3 separate regions of the Homo sapiens genome follow, and regions 1 and 2 are each linked to region 3. The links come from fine-mapping of genetic effects on gene expression. A gene starts in region 3. Each other region holds a variant in brackets. All regions are shown on one strand. Distances are between the middles of the regions. Region 1 has its middle 94 kb from the start of PDE4D-AS1. Region 2 overlaps PDE4D (phosphodiesterase 4D). Region 3 holds the start of PDE4D-AS1 (PDE4D antisense RNA 1).

What was found. PIP is the estimated chance that this variant, and not a neighbour inherited with it, causes the effect.
Region 1: its variant is the best candidate, but not a certain one, in a credible set for the expression of PDE4D-AS1 in whole blood (INTERVAL, PIP 0.76).
Region 2: its variant is the best candidate, but not a certain one, in a credible set for the expression of PDE4D-AS1 in whole blood (INTERVAL, PIP 0.50).

The regions. Positions count from the first base shown.
Region 1 is chr5:58,940,121-58,951,704 of GRCh38, forward strand. No RefSeq gene overlaps it. Among named protein-coding and RNA genes, the nearest start is that of PDE4D-AS1, 94 kb to the right of the region's middle. The variant G/A (reference allele first, on the strand shown) is at 4,846.
Region 2 is chr5:58,996,082-59,001,081 of GRCh38, forward strand. All of the region lies in intron 6 of PDE4D (phosphodiesterase 4D), which reads right to left. Among named protein-coding and RNA genes, the nearest start is that of PDE4D-AS1, 41 kb to the right of the region's middle. The variant ACAAT/A (reference allele first, on the strand shown) is at 2,895.
Region 3 is chr5:59,037,051-59,042,050 of GRCh38, forward strand. It overlaps PDE4D-AS1 (PDE4D antisense RNA 1), which reads left to right and starts at 2,716. Exons shown (of 2, transcript NR_198970.1): 1 at 2,716-3,020. It overlaps PDE4D (phosphodiesterase 4D), which reads right to left. Exons shown (of 15, transcript NM_001104631.2): 6 at 1,809-1,921. RefSeq lists a silencer at 2,085-2,154.

The DNA.
Region 1 (11,584 bases), 94 kb before region 3:
CTGGGTTAGTTTCAAATGACTGATTTTTCTCTTCATTATGGGTCATATTTTTGTGGACAGTTTTTGGATCCTTTTGTATTTCTATAAATACTTTTGAACTTTGTTCTAGAACACACTTAAAATTACTTGCAAATAGTTTGACCCTTTATCTTAATTTTGTGCTTTGTTAGATGGTATTTCTATAAATATTCTTGAACTTTATTTTGAAACTCAGTTACTTATAAACAGTTTGATTCTTTTGGGTCTTATTTTGAGTTTCATTATGTGGTATCAGAGTAGTATTTAGTCTAAGTTCTATGTTACTGCATGACTGAAGCAAAAATTCTTCCAAGTATGCTACTCAATGCCCATTTCCTATAGAAACAGGAATGATTCTGAGCCCTGGATTCTATACCCCGTAATCATTCCAGCTGATTCTTTCCCCAGTCATGGGTAGTTTCCTCACATGCATATGCTGACTCATGCTCAGCTGAAGACCCTGTACAGATCCCCAGTGTTCTCTCTGCACAGCTGTCTCCTTTCCCATATCTTTCCTTGCAAACTCTACTCACTTTGCCCTCCCCAGACTCCACTTAGGGAGATGGCAGGGTTCCATCTGGGTTTTCCCTTTCTGTACCACAGTCTTGATACTCACTCCAGACAGTAAGCTGTGGCGAACATAAGATTCATCTTGTTTCTTGTTTCTCTTGGATCACTATTCTTCATTGCCTGATGTCTTGAAAAATCTTTTTATTTTTCAATATTGTGTCTGTTTTTTTTTCCACTGGTTTACTGGAGAGTAAATCTGGTCCCTGTTTCTTCATTTTGGCCAGAAGCAGAAATCTATTCATAGTATTTTTTCAAAAAGCTTCTCTGGTGGTTTTTATTCACACCCTCAATATACAACTGCTGCTATAAATTTTCTGTAAGATATTAGTAAGTGACCCAGAGCAAAGTTTATTCTATAAGAATGCCAGTTTGATGAGACCCGCTGATATTATTGTATCTTTGAGCCAGTTTGAGGACAAAATTGCCAGGTCTACGGCTGTCTTCTTCCCTGTGAGCTTCTTCTCATAGACTCACAACAAATAGGATAAAAGACAAAAAGAGTAATGTTACTAGTAATAAAACATTTCCACAAAGAATAAACATTTTCAAATCTGATCAGATAATCCAGGAATTTCTTAAAAGTTTCTTATTTCTAGGAAGAAAAATAAACAATTTAAGAGCTTTATGGAAAGGACACCGGGACTCAAATCCAATGAGAGACTTACCTTAACACTGCAGTGGGGGAGGCTTCCAAATGGCAAACTTCAGAAGAACACACTGTTTAGGGCTAAGGTTCTTAAACTGCAGGAGCAGAAATTATTGAGTGAATCCTACTGAGGCCCCAGAACTGTTGATTGCTGACTTTCAAAGAAGACCATCAGAATAAACTATTGATCAAACAAAGCTAAGTTTATTAACCTGCAGTAAGAGAGTGCAACACCTTGAAAAAGTCCTTATAATTCTCAAAAGGGAGAGGTCACAGGTAGATATTTATAAACATTAAGGGTCTGAGCTCAAGTGGTTTAAAGTCAGGCCTTTCAAGGAAGAAATCTGGTGGAAATTCGGCAAAGTTCATGATATTATAGTTTAGAATTGGTGGACATTGTGATAAGAGGGTCTTGAAGTCCTGAAAAATAGATCTTTGATAAACAAGTTATTAGACTTGGAGAGGAATCTGTTGTCCTGAAAAGGGGTTTATTTTTTCAAATGAGCAATCTATCATCTGAATAAATTGGTTTTCAGAAATTTTCTGAAGTAAACATTGATGTTATTTATTGTACACCGTCTTATCTTCCTGGACAAGAATTTTCTTGAACAAATAGTAAAGTCATAGTGACACAGATGGTTTGTTTTCCATACTGATAGTTAAGCTATGAGGATGCAGGTGGTCTCAGTTAGAGATAAGAATGGACCTATTGAAGAGGAAAGCCTACAGAACTGGGTATGATTAGACTTCATAGGGTCTGGTTATGATCTGACCAACAAACTAGCTGGAAGATTTGAACAAATGACATCACCTTTCTGAGCCTCACTGGACTTAACAGCTGGACTGACACTACCTGGGACACCACCACACAGAGCCCAGAGTGAACAGAGTGCAGCTCTTCACCCAGAGCTATGCCCCTCTACCCTTTGTATAATTCCTGGTTCATGGGACGGTAACAGATTTGAGGTCTGTCATACCTGGGCATCAGAATGAAAAGTTGCCTCCTGGTAGGTGAGTTGCCTCTATTGAATGTTGCTGCAGTCTGAATGTTTGTGTCTACCCAAAATTCATATTTTGAAATCCTAAACCCTAAGGTGATGGGGCTTTTTGATAGGTGATTAGGTCATGAGGGTTGAGTCCTCATGATCGGGATTAGTGTCCTTATAAATCAGGCACAGAAAGTGACCTTGCTGCTTTCACTGTGTAGGGATGGGACCACACCAGACAGTGAATCTGCTGGCAGCATGATCTCGGACTTCTCAGCCTCCAGAACTGTGAGAAATAAATGTTCGTTGTTTATAAACCACCCAGTTTATGGTATTTTTGTTAAAGCAGCCTAAATGAACTAAGACAAATGTTTATATAACTTGGGTTTTCCAAGGCCTCACCACATTGTAAGTAGAAATAGGGTTACGTTAACAGTAACAACTAAACTTTAGTGGTTCTTGCCACTAGCAAGGCAAGCAAGACCCTACTACCTGGGGAGAAGGGAGTCTCGCAAGGGCTCCTTGCATATGTGCACATACACAAGTCAAGGCCACTGCTGCTTCTGCTACCCCTTCTCAGTGCTATTGCTCCTATCCAGCGTCTGCTGGGAACCCCTCTCCCAGAAGGTCTAAGAGGAACTGCCTGGTGTCCCAGGTATCTCCTGAGAAAGGGACCACTGTTGTGCTGGCTCCCTCAGGGAGCTAGAGCTGCCCAGAGGTCTCTGGGGACAGGGAAATTGGCTCTCCCCATTTTGTGTTATAATCAGTTGAATGATCCCTATGGTATCCTTGAATTCCTTTGTGTTATAGAGTTTAGTAAAACAACACTTTCAATTGATCCTCCCAGTTAGAGGTATATTGAATACACATTTTGGCCATATATGGAAAGGCGTAGTTTGGCATAAGCTGAGGCTAAAGATAAATATCAGCATCATAGAGTACACTTATGGAATGTGAATACATCTGAAATTTTATTTTAAAATTGATGATTATACTATACAATTCCATTTATATAAACTTCTCAAAAGATGAAACAATTGGGATGGAGAACTAGTAGCTGTTCCTAGTGTCATGGAGTAGGGTATTATGAGGAAGCTTTTTAGGTGGTGAAACTGATCCAGATGGTGATCCTACTGGTGGTTACATGAACAATGTTTGTGTTAAAATTTACAGAACTGTAACTGTCTAATGGGTTCTTCTTGCCTGCTGCTCAGATAAAGCTGATTTATCAAGATAGGGCAATTGCAGTAGAGAAAGAGTTTAATACAAATAGAGCCAGCTAAACAGGAGACCAGAGTTTTATTATTACCCAAATCAGCCTCCCTGAAAATTTGGAGGCTAGAGTTTTTCAAGAGTAATTTGGTGGGCAAAGGAATGGGTGCTGCTGATTGGTTGGGGATGCAATCATATGGGTGTGGAAAATGGTCCTCGTGTGCCCTGAGTCAGCTTCCAGTAAGGGTCCACAGAGGAGTCACTGGTTCAGGACACTGGGTCATCAGAAATGCAAAAGCCTGACAAGACATCTCAAAAGGTCAACTTTAGGTTCTACAATAGTAATTTTAGGTTCTACAATAGTAACGTTATTTACAGGAGTAATTGAGGAAGTTGAAAATCTTGTGACCTCTGGAATAATGGCTGGTAATCACTTAACTATGCCTATATCTTAGCAGAATTCAGGCCCTCCTATCTTCGTAAACTGGTGGCCTTTCATTAGTTTTACAAAGGCAGTTTAGTTTTGGAAAGAGCTATTATCATTTAAACTATAACCTAAATTTCTCCCAAAGTTAGCTTAGGCCATGCCCAGGAATGAAGGGCAGTTTGGAGGTTAAAGGCAATGTGGAGTTGGTTAGGTCAAATTTCTTTCACTGTCAAAGTTTTCTCAGTGTTGCAATTTTTGCAAAGGTGGTTTCAGAACTGTACATCAAAAGGAAAAAAAATCAATTTTACTGTATGATAATTTTAACAATAATATAAATTAATGATTAGTGCAGGTTTTTTTTTTAAGTTGTATAAAATTTTTATAGTTTGACATGATAGTGACTCAGAATTTTCAGCTGCCAGATTCCTTTTGTGGTCACCATCGCATGTTTCTGATACAGATTGAATATCCCTTGTCCTAAATGCTTGGAACTGGAAGTGTTTTGGATTTCATTTTTTTGAAATATTTTGGGATATACACAATGAGATATCTCACTGATGAGAACTGTCTAAACACAGAATTCTTTTCTATTTCATATACACCTTTTACACTGACAACTGAAATGAGTAATTGAAGCATAAGTTTCAAAGCATCAAGCTTTGTTGAGCCAGCTTGAAGGCATACCTGGGAAAATAGAGAGTCACAGAAGCATGTGTGACTGTTTTTTCCAAAGAGGTTCTTAGGAGGTTTAGTATTTATATATTTTCCTTAAAAGGCAGGGGAGGTGGTGGGGCAGCAGTGAGACAAATGATTACATACTTGTAAAACTTTAGTTAGTGCCTGGTAAATCTACATCTTACATAAAATAAGGTGAACATAATGAATCTCATCTGGACTGTTACGTATCTGGGAAGATAAGCTAGTAGTCTTTTGGAAAGGCTGGTTTCTGTTTAGCTGTTAAGGAAGAAAACCTAACGACTGTTAGC[G/A]AGGGTGGGGATATAATGAGGCATATGCCAAATCTCCCATCCCATCATAGCCATGAATTCAGCTTCCAAGGTTTTGCTGGGGTTCCCTTGGCCAAGAGAGAATCCGCTGGGTCAGTCGGAGGGACTTAGAGTTTTATTTTTATTTCCTAACAAATAGCCTGAAGATAATTTTATACATATTTTAAAATAGTTTTGTTCATGAAGCAAAGTTTTGATTGGTACCCATCACATGAGATCAGGTGTAAAATTTTCTACTTGTGGCATCATGTTGGCATTGAAAAAGTTTCAGATTTTGGAGCATTTCAGATTTCAGATTTTCAGATTAGGGATGTTCAACCTGTACTAAGGAGTTACTGGCTTTCGAATGGCATGTTTAATAATTTCACCTTCTGGGGAATAACACAGCCAAATACAAATCAGGAAAATGTCTTTCAGTAATTTGTTTTCTAGAAGAAACTTTGCATGCATTTACATAGCTTAGATAAATGAGAAACTCCGAAGCTTCAACTATTGAAAATATTTGCTAGCTTGTAAAAATCAATTTAATATTAGAATAGTCTCTATAAATTCAAAATAAGAAATTGTCTTCTGTGTTCTGAAGTTTGATTTGTGAATAAAATGCATGTCAGAACTCAGCTAAAATACATTCATTTTTTTCTATCAAATTTTACTTATCTTTTTGGTGTATATGATTTCAGATACATTTCTCTCCATGAAATTTTGAAATGTCAGATGGCATTCTGCTTTTAATTCAGCCTCATATAATGCAAAAAATAAGACTTATGACTTACTGGAATTAAATAATTAAAAATATCATTCTTTAAGCTTACTTTTTGAGTATTGTGAATGCAATTATACCAAAACAATTCTACAAAGATTCTAATTATGAAGTAATCTAATATCATCATAGTAATTAAATCTATATAAGCTTTTGTTGACTCAATACAATTATATTATTTTCTACATTAGTTATCTAGCTAATCCTCTTAATATTCCTACTGCCAATCAAGCTCCCAAATTTAATTACTTAAACATTTTATTAATAGCTTTTTTTTTTAACATAAATTAACAGCTCTCATAAACATTATTTGTTGGAATATCTTATTTTGGGGATAAGCCGTATACATTTCTTCCTCAGCTGACTGGTAGAATTTCAACATATAAAGCACCTAAGAAGATTTCACTCCAAGTTAGAATGCTTACATATGTTTGAAAGGCAATGTAGAGATATTAACAATATCTTTAATGGCATGCCTTCTTTAAGTAGCTGTTGTTGTTACACTGATTAGATATGTAATCATATGATCACAGGGATGCCAGAAAGAATGATGAAGTGGGCTCTCTGAAGGCTGAAGCAGAAAGACTGATTATTGCCAAATGCTGAACCAAAACCAAGTCTGTGCAGTCCTACTTACAAGCTTTTCTATCAACAACATGGGCACCTACTTCCTGTTGACAAAGTCTGAAAAAGAAAAAACAAAACAAAATACACCCACACAGTCATGAATCAATTGAGCTGGGTAGAGCCGTGTCTAAAAAACAGAAGATACCATGCTGTATTGAGAAGTACTTCTCCTTCTGACTCTGGCTTAATTACTGAATCCTGCCAGGTTCTCTTTTTCTTTTTCTCTTTTCTTTCTTTCTTTTTTTTTTTTTTTTTTTTTAGACTGAGTTTTGCTCTTGTTGCCCAGGCTGGACTGCAATGGCGCGATCTTGGCTCACAGCAACCTCCGCCTCAGCCTCCCGAGTAGATGGGATTACAGGCGCCTGCCACTATGCCTGGCTAATTTTTGTATTTTTTTTTTTTTTTTTTTTTTTTTTTTAAGAGACAGAGTTTTACCATGTTGGCCAAGCTGGTCCTGAACTCCTGACCTCAGGTAATCCACTGGCCTCGGCCTCCCAAAGTGCTGGGATTACAGGTATGAGCCTCCGCACCCAGCCATGGTTCCGTCTTTTTCTAAGTCCTCATGACTTGATTGTGCACAGGCCCACCGTTCCAACCTTCCATGCTATCATATATTCCTGAGTGTATCTAAGTTCCTGTTAGCCTTCTGCTACATGTATATACATATACATATTATTTTTTAGTACCTGCTAAATAACAGGCACTATGTATGCTAAAAAAGAGAGTGTATATCTATCTATATTCATATGTGTGTATATATTTCTAATAAATTTCTAATATAATTTTATGAGGGACTTCCACTTAAACATGGGGATTGAATGTACATATTTTTCTATTTCTCCACAAAAACGACAGCAAAAGAATTTTTTAAAATGGCATAAGCTTGCAAGGACAAAGGCAATGGAAAAGAAGCTGACACACAACATTTCAGAAACTGGAAGCAGCCAGGTAGGTCATAATTGACTTGGGAACAGAGTGAGCAGAAACCTAAGGCAAGTAAGGGAAATGCATCAGTAAGCTAATTTACTCCATAGAATTCCAGGAAGACTTGGAAAATTGAGGATCCAGGGACTTATGGAAGTGGGGACACTGGTGGGTTTCAAAAACAGGAGGGTCAGTTGAAAATTTATAAATAAAGCAGTTAAAATATTTTCACCCACCTCATGTCATTGGATGACTACCTTTCACTCACGCCGGTTCTAAACATACACCCTCTGGAGAGGCTGATTCCAAAGGGATTCAGGACTCAGATGTGGCAACCATTGCTGAGAAAAAGGCTACAATATTAGAACCAGACTACCATATTAGAACCAAGTACATATTCTGCATTGAGAAACCCCAGCTCCTTCTCATACTCAGCTGGTAGAATTATGGCACCAAAGAGATTGGAGTAAGATCACCAGGAAAACCAACAATCCAAGAAAAAAAATCTAAAAACGGCAACAGGTTTTTGGATGTCCTTCAGTGAAATGTCCAAGCAAGAATATCCCCATGAAGCTTTCCAGTCAACAAACCTTGTACACACACAGGATTTTCACTTGGCTTTCTAATGTCTAACTCTTCAATACGAACTGACTGCCAAGGATTATCAGACAATGTGAGGAAAACCTCTCGCATAAAAGACCAAAAAACAGAAAAGAAACTAAGATGACACAAGAACTGTGAGGTGAGCAACAGAAAGTCTAAAGCAAATTCTAATAAATACCAGAAGGTAACACATCCATGAAATGGATGGAAATGAGCCATGTAAGAATTTGACTTGTAAACAATGTAACTATATTACTCCTACAAATTTATTTCTTTAATTTAAAAAACGAATTAGTAAATAAAACAGCCATGTGTAATGACTCTTACAAGAAAGAAAATTGGAGCTCAGATTAAAGAATATGCCCAGAGTGACACATTTGAAGCTGGGTGTGTCTCATTGCAGGTCCAGACATTTCCAGATTTCTCCTGGAGTCCAAGGGGCATGTCAGTGGACCCCGGATGTTTCAAGCAGTATCTTGGATTGCTCTTGGGAAAAATCTCTCTACATTCTTCACCCTTAGGTTACTGTCACCCTTCATTACTACTACAAATCTTCCTCAAGACAAGTTTCAGGCTGGGGATATACATTGAAGAACTTCAACTCTTTCTTAAGTTCTTAAGTGAGAGAGCAATCTCATCAGCATATTTTTTGAAAGCCACTGCTCAGATCAAAAGCAGGCCTGGGAATGATTCAGGAAGAAACACTTGGCTCTTGTACCATGAGACCTGAACCTGGAATTTCTCTTGAGGTCTTCCTTGATGGACGGAACGCTTTTATTCTTCTTATTCAAGAAAACGAGTTCACATAGGTCATGGTACTAGTAACCTTAGCATAACAAGAAGGAAGGATGGAATTATAAAATGCTCTTGGGTATGTTTTTTCTTCTCCTTCATCCTGAATAACCCTAGGGCTATGTGGGGAGAGAGGAGACTACATTCTCAACAGTGAGACCTAGTTCCTGTCAAGGTAAGTTTGTGTTTTGAAACTAGCTGCTTGTTAGCATATGCGTAAATTATAGAAAAAAGGAAAATGTTCACAGGAGTCAAACTTGTTCTCCTCTTCCTCTTCTTCGTAAGTTCTAGAGCTGACAAACACTGGGGTATACTGCAATAAACCATGTTCCAATTCCTATAAAAAATACTAATTATTGTCAGAATTATTTCATGAATCCTGAACACATTTGATGCTCATTGACTTCAAGAAAAGGGACGAGACTGGCTGCTACAAGAAGGCATCTACAAAACATTTGAGAATGCCAGGAGTGCAAAGAATGAATTGCTAGGATTTTCTGTGTTCACCCCTATTCAACTAGCCTTAAACATGGGAATAAAAATGTTTTAAGTACACGTACATGAACATGTATATATGTGTATGCATATCAGAGGCTTGGTCAAAACTCAGCCAACATAGGCTAGAAACTGCTTTGCCACTCTTGGAAGCCACAGATTTGCTGTTTTAACTTCTCTGCACTTATATTTCTAACTTGTAAAATAAAAATAGATCACCTAAGAGAGAAGGCTGGAATTCAACACGGAAGTGACACCTAGCATGAAAAACAAGAGGAAAGTGAAGTAGCCTGCTCAGCTGGGATTAGCAGGGAGTCTGGAGGGGCTCCCTAATGTGAGGAAAGAGTAGGTGAGTAGCCCCCAGTGGCCCACCTTCCTACCATGGACTCCTGCAATCCTAGCCACTGGAGAGTCCTTTGACCCACACAAGCCCTGAGAAAAAAGGAAAAACGTTCACAGGAGTCAAACTTGTTCTCCTCTTCCTCTTCTTCGTAAGTTCTAGAGCTGACAAACACTGCGGTATACTGCAATAAACCATGTTCCAATTCCTATAAAAAATACTAATTATTGTCAGAATTATTTCATGAATCCTGAACACATTTGATGCTCATTGACTTCAAGAAAAGGGACGAGACTGGCTGCTACAAGAAGGCATCTACAAAACATTTGAGAATGCCAGGAGCGCAAAGAATGAATTGCTAGGACATAGGGCACTGGCTGGAGACCCCATGATGGCATTGCTTCATATGGGGAGCTCACACTGGGTCACCCCACCCACCCTCCCTCTTACCCCACTCTTAAGGCACTCCAGCAAGGTACCATTTTGAAAGCCCAGCAGACTGCATCCTACCCTGGGACCCCACAGACCTTGCAACTCCAGATTCCTTGAGCCCCATTGACCTCCCCCTAACGCAGACCCTGCTGCTGCTGGCTGCTGCCTCCATATCCAATGTGGGGGCCACTGGAAGCTACCCACCATCCCCATCAGCAGGGTACCGTACATTTAGAAGCACCCTGAGAACAGGCTACCCCACCAGCAACTACCACCTGGGGCCAAAGTGTGTGCTCCCAGTGGCCCTCCTAAGGCTTCTGCCAATGAAAGCAACCCCAGCAACATGGCTAGGGTGTAGCTGCTGGTCCTCCCATCCAAGCATTCCACTGAGGGCCTGGAAATCACCATGCCCCTGCCTACCATAGCTAGTGCCTATATATACCATCGGGGGGCCTGAGGCTCACCTCTGTCTCCCTTCTCCCTAGTGCCCATGCAGGGGCCTGGGGATTGCTCAGCCCCATCTATTCCTGTTGGCGCCTGAGCACTCATCCTGAAGGCCTGGAGATGGGTTCACCCAACCTGCCACTACCATCACAGCCAGCATACACCCCCCACCCACAGACATGAACCACCTGTGGGCCTGGGAAATGGCCTGCAGCCACCTTGAAAATCAGTTGGGACTACTTGGGTACCAGAGGATTGTCCTGCCACTGCAACTGCCATCACCCACACCATGCCTGATGCCCAGGGCCTATGGACCTGCCCATCCACCTGGCCCACAGCTGCCATTGCCAGCACCTCAGCAAGCTGACTGGAAGCCCCCAGATCAGCCCGCCTGGACACACTAACACTGATGCCAGCATATACCACATTTACCACCAACTGATTTTCTATAAAGGTGCCAAGTATATACACTGAGGAAAGGACACTTTCTTCACTAAATGGAATAGAAAAAACTGGATATCCATATGCAGAAGAATGAAACTGGACCCATCTCTCACCCTGTACAAAAATCAACTCAAATCAGTTAAGGACTTAAACATAAGACCCAAAATTATGAACTACTACAAGAAAACATAGGGAAAACAATTCAGGACATCAGTCTGACCAAAGATTTTATAGCTAAGATCTCTAGATCACAGGCACCAAAAAGAAAAATAGACAAATGGGACTATATTAAACTAAAAATTCTTCTACACAAGAAACCAACAGACTGAAGATACAGCTTGTTGAATGGGAGAAAATATTTACAAGATATTTATCCAACAAGGGACTAGTATCCAGAATATACAAGGAACTCAAACAACTCAACAGTAAAAGACCACAAATCATCCTACTAAAAAGTGGGTAAAGGGCCAGGTGCAGTGGCTTACACCTGTAATCCCAGCACTGTGGGAGGCTGAGGCAGGTGGATCACTTGAAACCAGAAGTTTGAGACCAGCCTGGCCAACATGGTGAAACCCCGTCTCTACTAAAATACAAAAATTAGCTGGGCATGGTGGTGGGCGCCTGTAATCCCAGCCACTGGGGAGGGGAGGCAGGAGAATTGCTTGAGCCTAGGAGGCAGAAGTTGCTGTGAGCCACGATTTCACCACTGCACTCCAGTTTGAGCAACAGAATGAGACTCTGCCTAAGAAGAAAAATGGGCAAAGGACATGAATAGATATTTCTCAAAAAAAGACAAATGGGCATATTAAAAAATGCTCAACATCAGTAATCATCGGGAAACTGCAAATTAAAATCACAAT
Region 2 (5,000 bases), 41 kb before region 3:
GAACAATGAGAACACATGGACACAGGGAGGGGAACATCACACACCAGGGCCTATGAGCGGGTAGGGAGGGGAAGGACAGCATTAGGCAAAATACCTAATGTAGATGACAGGTTGATGGGTGCAGCAAACGACCATGGCATGTATATACCTATGTAACAAACCTGCACGTTCTGCACATGTATACCAGAACTTAAAGTATAATAATTAAAAAAAATTTGCTTTACAGATAAATTCACACTTGGAAAAATATACTCATTAGGCAAAGCATATTCCAAAGAAAAGAGTCTGCTAAACATTTTAAACACACATTCAATGAAATATCTCTTTGACCTAAAATTGTTCATGTTATGAGCTAAAAGTTGCTATTAAGAACTACCTGGTCATGACAAAGTCTTTTTTTTCATAAAAGATAGGAGATGAGGCAAAGCTTTCACCATTGCTAGAATCTCAGCAGTCTATACAGGAACTGCTGCCCTCCTTGCACTTCTCTCAATAAAGCAAAACAAGGGAAGCCTTCTGGGAGTGATTGATAAAGATAGATAGAGACCCAGTTATCACAGGTTTATCTTCTAACTTGTACACAAACTAGTATAAGGATTATGTTGCCCAAAGAGAACATGTGGATGCTACCTGCAGATATGCTACATATATTATTGGATTTTTCTAAAAGAATATAAAGAACGAAGTATAATTTTCCTGGCAGTTTGCTTAAACAATTCACCAAAATAGCCAGTTAGTACAGATAACTGAAGAAAAAAGCCAGTGAAAGGAATCTAAATATTGTACAGACTAGATAAGTGACATCCTGCATGTTCATCTTTCTGGTCATATACATTATTCCCAGAGTACTTTCCAGCCTTTGTTTAAAACACAAAAACATGGATTGGAGAAATCCTCCATCACATGCCCACCTCCCTACCAAGGCTTATAAGGGACTCCAAGGAAGTCAACATTTCATTTTAACATAATTATAAAAGACAATATTTGAAGCAATTACTTCTCTACTCTAGGAAGACGGTCTAAGGAATTTCCTAAAGATAATTCTGAAGCGTACATTAAGTTATAACACAAGGGTATTTTCTAAAAGGAATTAACATTGTTTTCCTTTTTTGCTATCCATATAAAAGTTTCAGTCCAGCAAAGCTAAATGAATAACCACAAAAATTACCATAAGTGCTTTCTCAACTGGTAGTTGATCTCACAAATTGGTTTTGGAGTGCATAGCTAGATGTACTAAAAAAATGCACTAGATCATTCAACAAACATTTAAAAATGTGATACTTCTCTCATCTAAAAATAATTATATAATATTTACTAAGATAACTACATAAAATTACCAAAGGGGGAAGGACTGATTTAAAGCTAATACAATGTATTCTTCTGGGAAATCCCATCATATTTCTCAATTAATATATTTAGAAGGGACAAAACATTAAACTGCTGTTTGAAACGAACCGATTGTAAAATGCAGAACCATTTAAGCATTTAGTTTATTTTTTTAAGTGACCTCTAAATATTTTCCATTGATGAATTTCTAATTGTTTTTGGCCTAAGTAGTCTGAAAACAATACACAGATTTAGGGTTGCAACTAAAAAAACGGGAGGATTTCTAAGTGAATGCTTTTGAATCCTTTGTTCTCATTATACATCAGAATGTCTGTGTACAGCAGTTAAGGCATAAAGGAAAGTAAAAATGCAGTTGAATCTCAATACTGTATTTTGCTTTTCAGAACTGCAATTCTTCAATTTACATTAGGCATTTAAGATTGTTCAGGAAGCAAACTAAAATAATAAAACAAAATGTCCTTAAATGTAATCTCCTTTACTTCTACATCACGCCAGTGTGCTACTGGGTATATTATATATCCTCCCAATATATATTTAAGGAGGTGGTATGGGTCCAATAGTAAGAAAATTTTCTTATTTTTTCCTGACAATATTCTGCTAAAAATCATTTGAATATGCTGCACTGTGATGCATTACAAGTTTGGTAGATATCAGTATTCAAAGTTATTTAAACAAATACTCCATTGATGGTATAAAAATAAAACCTTCAAAATGCATAAGACCAAATATATCTATATTTGCTATTTTTACATGTTTTTAAAGGTACAGTATTAAACATAAAGCTGTCCAGGAAAAATTTTCCTCAAAAAGAAACGTACTAAAATTCTATATGTAGATTCTTGGCAATATTGTTCATAATCATAGTACAAATGGTTCATAATCACAGTACAAATGTGAAGCCCTTCAAAAATAACATCAGTTGTGAGCTGGCTAAAAGCTAGGAGCTGAATTCTGGCGGATAATGAGGGCTTCTTATATTTACTCTCTATACTTTTCTGCATTTCTGAAGATTTTTAGCCAAGAAATGGCTAACAAAATTCAAATAATGGAAGTCTATATATTTTAAAAACATTTTTAAAAATCTGAATCATCCACAGATTTAAAGGGAGGTAAGGAATCATGACTACTTGGACAACCAAGACTGAAATAAGTTTTCTAATTTTTTTAGAATTCAAGTAAATCTCTAAAACAAAGGGGAACTTGTCCTTCAAAAAGAAAGAAACAAAGCAAACGACAAACACTCCAATCTGAAAAATCCTCAGAGTAACAGAAAATGAATCTTTTAAAATGTGTTGTGATTGGCTCCCAGGTTCAAGCGAGTGGCTCAAATACCAAAAATCTGTGAAGTGATGTTTCATTTAGGACTGAATAAGGTTTTTCTACCTCCTTCTATTGTGGAGACAGGATCACAATGCTAATGTTACCACAGGGCATGGAAAAAGCCTGCCAAGCATGGACACAATCTTATTGAATTGTTTATTAATTCATTTCTTGAGATTCACAAAACAGTGTAATAAAAACTTTGTTCAGTTTTGCAAGTATAATAG[ACAAT/A]CAAGTTTTCACTTTAGTATCACTTACATAGTTAAGTAATGTCAATTTTTAATGTCACCTAGGGCTTTATAGCTAAAGGTGAAAAAAACGTATTCCTCGTCAGGTTAAAGTAGTATAGATTTTTAGAAACAGCCACAAATTAATTTTATAAACTTTATGTGCAACATACTAACTGGAATCCATAAATCAGTATAAGTAATTTGGCCCAATAATTTATTTGCAATGAATGTATTTAATTACCATATATTTTTCAAGCACAATTCAAACATATACCACATGACAAACAGAAGAACTACTGCGTATCTAAAAAAGCTATTTTAACACTCAAACTACAACTGATGAAAGTTATACAATCTTATCTTGACCACTATTAACACGTATTTCTTCCTAGTTCATGTGTAAGGAAAGAATACATAACTGATAGTTTGAACAAATTACAGTAGAGTCTAAGCTTTCTAAATAATTTTGTAATCAGAGTAAGGAGTTTTCAAAAGCTAAGTAAGTCTTACCTTTATGTAGCCCCAAGACACTGACAGTAAATAGTTTGCTTCAGGCATTTTTGATTGATTATATGTATATATATATATATGTATATATATAGTAAGCTCTAAAATGTATTTAGCTTCAAAATCTCGACACTTTAACAACCTCCACAAGCCACGCAGAGTATGAGTTTTTAAAGATTTTTGGTAATTAAGTATACATAAGAAAGCCTCGCATTAAATCCCATCCAGCCGTCTTCCCATCGAATACATGCCATTTGTAAGACTCCAGAATGGCACAAAATTCAGCAACTATTCTGAATAAAGAAAATCCACGTGATAAAGGAATATCTAAAGATCTAAGGGTCTGCATCTTTCTCTCCCGAGCTCCAGGGCTTAATGAATAATGTATGTCAAGATGCTTAGTTGCAAGAAAGGCTAGTCCTGTCAAAAGCTACCAAATAAGGAACTGCAGGGAAGCCGGGAAGAGTGACAAGAAGCCCCTCCCATAAAACCCCAACTCTGCACCAATTGCATTCCAGCTCTTAGCCTATAAGGCGAGGGGGTGTGGCCTCGGTGCAGGCTGCTTTGGGATTGGTTGGCAAGGGCCAGCCTCTGGGGAGGCTTTCTCCTCACCCGACAAACGCCATTGAATAATGGTATCCCTGCAGCTCTGAGGCCACCCTGAGAAAAGATGAACGGGGCTTCCCTCTTGCAGTGATGAATAATGACCATAAAACTCCTCAAAATTCGTAGTTCATTCTTAAGAATTGCCCATCCTTTTGGAGGGCATTTTCTATGAATTTTAATGTCCTCTGGCTTCCCTTCCTTCCAAATAAAAACTGCTCCAAAAATGGCAATCGAGCATTTTAATTGCTTCCCTCTCTCAAATCCAAAACAAGTGGCTCCCTGGTGATGTAGAAATGACTGTAGTTCTCCCCTCATCCAACATAAAAGCATAGGGATTAAACAATACGACTAATGTCCAGAATTCACAGATGGCACAGATGGCAATGACACATTCCCTCACCTGTGTGCCATGGCTGCTCTCAGCTCCTTTTGTTTCTATTGTTATGTATGACAGAGTTCTAAAACCTTCAAAATCTAGGGGTGGGACCACTTGCAATTCTGGGGGGAGGGAAATGTGAAAGCTAGGGCACTGTGTATGCATAAGGAATGCAGTGTTTTGTATATAGAACTCAGGATCTGTATTTTGATCAGAAGAGAATATTTTATTTATTTATTTAGAGACAGAGTCTCGCTGTCGCCCAGGCTAGAGTGCAGTAGTGCGATCTTGGCTCACTGTCACCTCTGCCTCCCGGGTTCAAGCGATTCTCCTGCCTCAGCCTCCCGAGAAGCTGGGATTACAGGCGCCCACCACCACGCCTGGCTAATTTTTGTATTTTTAGCAGAGACGGGATTTCACCATGTTGGCCAGGCTGGTCTCAAACTCCTGACCTCAGGGGATCTGCCCACCTCAGCCTCCCAAAGTGCTGGGATTACAGGTGTGAGCCAACGTGCCCAGCCAGAACAGAACATTTTAATAACTGTACACAAAGTTAAGAAAGGAATGAGTGGCTCTTAGGAATCCAGAATTGAGCTCAAGAGTAATCAGACATT
Region 3 (5,000 bases):
GAATCATTTTAGGCAATTATTATGACCTAAAAAATTTTTAAATCTTAACGTATAGATTAATTCCTTGACAGCTGAAGTCATTTACAATACATTATTAAATTTCACATTCAGTTTTAAATCCAAACATAGATCTCAACATTAAGAATATGGATTTTAGGGAAAGTAACTAGCTGCTCAAATTCATTTAGCTGAAAAACTACTGTCGAATCACCTTGAAAATATACACTAATGCTTGCACATTGCTAAGTGGCTTTTGATTCTGCTCTTCATTTTCTTACACAGAATCAACCACACAATAGAATTAAGAACTCAGGCCCATGGCAAAGTGCTCCCATTTAGCAGTTAGGACACTGGACATATTCAGCATATGTCTACTGCTATTGAGAATCAAATTATGAAAACAAACTATATTTTATAAAACTAAGAATTTGTTACTCAGATGAGAATAAAGGTGCCTAATGCTACAGCAGGGGGTAAAAGTCCCAGTAAGAGAGCAATAATTGGTCATTCTGATGAGGAGCTGTGCCAAATTTAGAAATGAGGCACAAATGACAAAAAAATTGATCATCAGTGTGGACATGGGTAGGTCAGTGTGCATATGGGTAGGTTAGTATCTGCTGGCCGTGTCTACAGAGCCCCTTTTATTTATTTGAAGCCAACTTTTCACTTGACAATGCTACCTACAAAAGCACTGTTAATAGATAAGACAATCAAGTGGCTGTTATGCCGTGGCCTTTTTGTAAAAACTGCATGAGAACAGGTGGGATAAAAACCATAGAAAGGTAGAAAAAAAAAAGCATCACTCATTTAAAGATATGTGCACATAGATGAACTGTAAGATAATATAACCTTCTTGACCTTGTAAATAGGTGGCCAAAAATACTTAAATATCTTGACGAGGCAACTATTACTAATTGTCTCACAACATTACCAGTCCTTACTGGCTGAATCCTTCAGCCATCTGCATACGACATGCACAGGCAAATAGCCACTAAAAACATACACAATTCCAATTATCTCCTTGCATAACTAAAGACAAAAAGAACAGGAAATCCAAAAAATACAGCAAAACTGAAAACACTATACCTTGCCTTCCGTGCTATTTTAAGGCTGTCCCAGGCTGAAGGTTACTTCTCAGCCCTCAAAACTCCATTAACTGCCAAGACCAGCACCTTAGCACATATGGCACAGATGCCTAGTTGAAGCCTCCTTGTACTAAATGACCTCAAAAAACTGGGCTTTCTTTCCAAGATTAATGGAAACAAAAGTAATGATCATAAGGAACCTTCTAACTCTGTTAATGTTTCCTGCGGATATGTATGGCCAACTGAATATATAAAGGCTCAGTTCTTGCGGGGTACCCTGACAACTAGATGAATTAGGGTGAAGGTTCCAAGTTCGATGAACTCTTCTGAGTTTGAGTGCCCTAGGTGGTGACATTCAAGTGATTTCACAGACATCCACCAATTCTTATTTTCAACCGGGAATCCCAAGAACACCTTTAAACATGCAATGCCCATGGACCCTACTGGGTTTCTGCTGCAAGGGCTCAGTGTTACTTAGGAACCCTGTGTCTTGGGAGATACTTAAATTTAGCACGTCAAATTGCTTTTGGAAAATGTTTATCTGGCGTGACTAGGGGAGGCAAAGCAAGGAAACAGGAACCTCCCTCTAAGGAGCAGAATAGCCAACATGCAGTAAGCCTAAAAAACCTCTCAATTTATTTCCCGGGGCTATGGGTACCAGTGGCTCGCCGGCATGGGAATCAGCAGCCTGGGGGCACCAGTGACAGCAGAACCGGGGCTTACCTTGTTGGAGGCCATCTCACTGACGGAGTGCCTGGTCTGTAGGGTCTCTAGCTGGTCCAGACACCAGTCCAGCTCCTCCAGGGTCTCGCTGGCCAGTTTCTGGTAGGCCTCCTCTGCGAAGAGACAGGGAAAGGGGGACTCAGTTCTCAAGCGCTTCACGGGTCCGCTAGCGAGTTCAAAGGGGGCCATCCTGCCATACCCCGCCATGCTCGGATGCCCGGTGCCGGCACATGAGGGCTGCTCCTTCATATTGCCCAGCCCGGCAGTGCAACGGGGGCGGAGGCTGTGCTCGCGGGGCGGCCGGCCTCGGGGAGGCACGGTCTCTCCAGCTTGGCGTCTCGGGTCGGCCTCCAGGGAGGGCGTGCAAAGAGCGGCGAGCCAACTTTCACACAGCGACGCGAGCGGAAAAACCACTATGCGACTTTTCAACTGTGCGGCGGGCCCGAGTCCCAGTCCAGGAGCCCGGCTCTAGCGGATGGCGAGGGGGTGGCGAGCGCGCTTGGGTGCCCGCCCCGCAGAGGAGCGTCTGGTCCACAGCCGGATCTCCTCGGTCCCCAACCCGGAGCCGCGGCCCCACGCCCGCCCCGCCTGCCGAGCCTTCTGCACGGCACTTGAAGTGAATGAATCAGCCGCGGCCGGGTGCGCGGCCACCACGTTTCCTGTTTTCTTTCTCAACTCCTCGGGCGGCAGGCGCAGCGCGGCTCCAACGCCGCAGCTTTCCGGGAACACTCCCCCTCACGCCCCTCTCGGCCCTCGGCGCTGCCTGGCTCCTCCTCAACCCCCTTACGAAAAGATTCCGAATTGCAAAAGCCTGTCCCTGTCCGTGCCACCCGCCGCGTCCTTCCCCTCGAGCTCTGCCCCGGGGGCCCCGCCACCTCGCAGTGCCATCCCCCCGGCGCAGCCGGGCGCCACTCGCTTTGAAGTGCAGACGAGGAGGCGCGGGCGCGAGCGTGTGTGTCTGTGGGGCTGCTGTGGGACTGTCTGTGCTAGGAGAGCGGCGGAAAACCCGGCGTGGAGCGCCTGCAGTCCGCCGTCCGGGGTCGCGCCCGCCGCGGGGCTCAGGAGGGACCGGCACGCAGGCGCGCACGGCCGCGCACCTGTCTCGCTAGAACCCCGCGCGCCCCGCCGAGCCACTGCCCTCCAGGTTGCCCAGACCGCTGGAGCCTCTGCGACTCCACGACCGGCTGCTTCCTGCGAAGTTTCACAAACAAGGTTATTTAGGACCCTCAAGGTTTCTGAGGGTTTAAGTTTTAGGGTTTCTGGGGGTTCGTTTCTAAAGGCTTAGGATTCACCTACTTCAAGGAGGCAGGGTTGTGGGAATTAAGACCGCATTCTTTTTCTACCCAGCCCAGTCCCTACTAAGTACCAGACTTCTAAATGTTGGGGCGGACAGAAACAAGCAAACAAAATATACAATGTTGTGGGGTCGGAACGCTTTATAATTCACAAATTTGACAATAGGCTGCATTTTCATATGCCGAATTGCCTAAGAGTTCTCTTAAAGGAACAGCAATGTGAAAGAACCACATGGTAAGGAGAATTTACGCATGTCCTGCATACTACTCCTTTCCCCTGTGAATTGCATAAGACCTAGATGATCTTGGGCCAAGGAAGAAAATCTGGAAGGGTGTTTCTACCCACCATGTGCAGAGTACACTACAATTTTGAGAAAACGGAAAGACCATATTCAAAGGCATACAGAAAAGCCTGTTCTGTTTACAAAGGCTGACCCAGGGCACCAGGGACACTGTCCCTAAGCAGATCAGTTGTGGGAGAACTTTTCTACATTAGCATGCAATAAGCAAACCATTCATAGTGAGGAGAAGTCAAACTCCCAAGGGTCCATTTGATAAAACTTTGTCATTGTCGAGTGGAAAGAAGATACTGAGAAACTTACACTAAGTGGTGGGATCCCTTGTCTTTGTCTTTGAATCTACAGGTATTGGAGAAGAAATTCTGCCCTTGAAATTTAGACTCCATAAATTAACATGGCACAACAAATAAAGTTCATGGACTGAATTTAGGCTCCTGGGATTTTTGAGATAGCTTTTTATGTGAACTTTGTAAAAGTTAGAGTAACTTTTAAAGTAGTTGTTACATGTGCCACGTGGCTTATTGTTATCAAGAATACTTGAACTATTTACTGTTCACTTTGAGTACTCTAGGTTAAAATTTGCCTCTTTTTTGTTCTACTTCCTCCACCCCGCAGTCTATGTAAATATATACTTTAGATGGACAAACAACTGCCTAAACCTTGCCAGGTGAATTAAAGTTTCAGATTGAAGCTTTTTTTTCCCCCTTAACAAGCTTAAAGATATTAATAATTTTAAATGGTAAATATAAAATACCTGCTCTGTATAGCTTCCCCAATTCTAAGAATGTAAAAAATATTACATGCTTGTTATAAAAATTGAAGCATTACACACAAATATAGGAAGTCCATTGTAACCCCACACCCTAAAGATCACAAACAATACTTTCGCCTATGGCTCTAACACAATCATTTTCATTTTACTGAATAACTTCCATATGCAAGTATAGCATCACCTAGTTGCCATGGTAGTGCATCTACTATATGGTTTGGTTTTGATATTTTCCTCTCTCTCTCATTCCCATAATATAGGAATGTAGGAAATTTTAAGAGGACATTGACTTGTTTTATGATCATTTGAGCTGTCCATAGTTAGCCTATCCAGTGGATTAAAGATGCATAACCATTGTGTCTGGGATTTGTTCAGTGCCATCTTTTCAATCATTGGTTACAATGAAGCTGGGAGTCCCCTCTGAGGTTCGGCTTTCTGTGGCTCCTCTCCCCTGCACTCCAACTTTCTCAAAGCCTGAGCCTCAAGTGATTTCCCAGTAGCTAAGTAAACTGCCCCCTTCCTCCATCTTCACCAAGTTCCCAAAGCTGTTCAGACTCAGGCTTCAAATCTAACAGGATGTGGCTCCACACATTATATTTCAGTTGTTATTTTTTAATGTGGAAAATAATTCAGGAAAGTTTTGGCTAATGCTTCAAGACATCATGCACTTTATACACAGGATTTGTTCTTAAGAAGGTAGTATAGTGACAGGAGGAACAATTTACTTCAGAATATCCATTTTATGTCCAAGCCATGCACCAGCCACTTTTGACAGACAGGATTTGAGTATGATGATAAAATGGGGTAAGCATATATTTTAAGTTCTAAC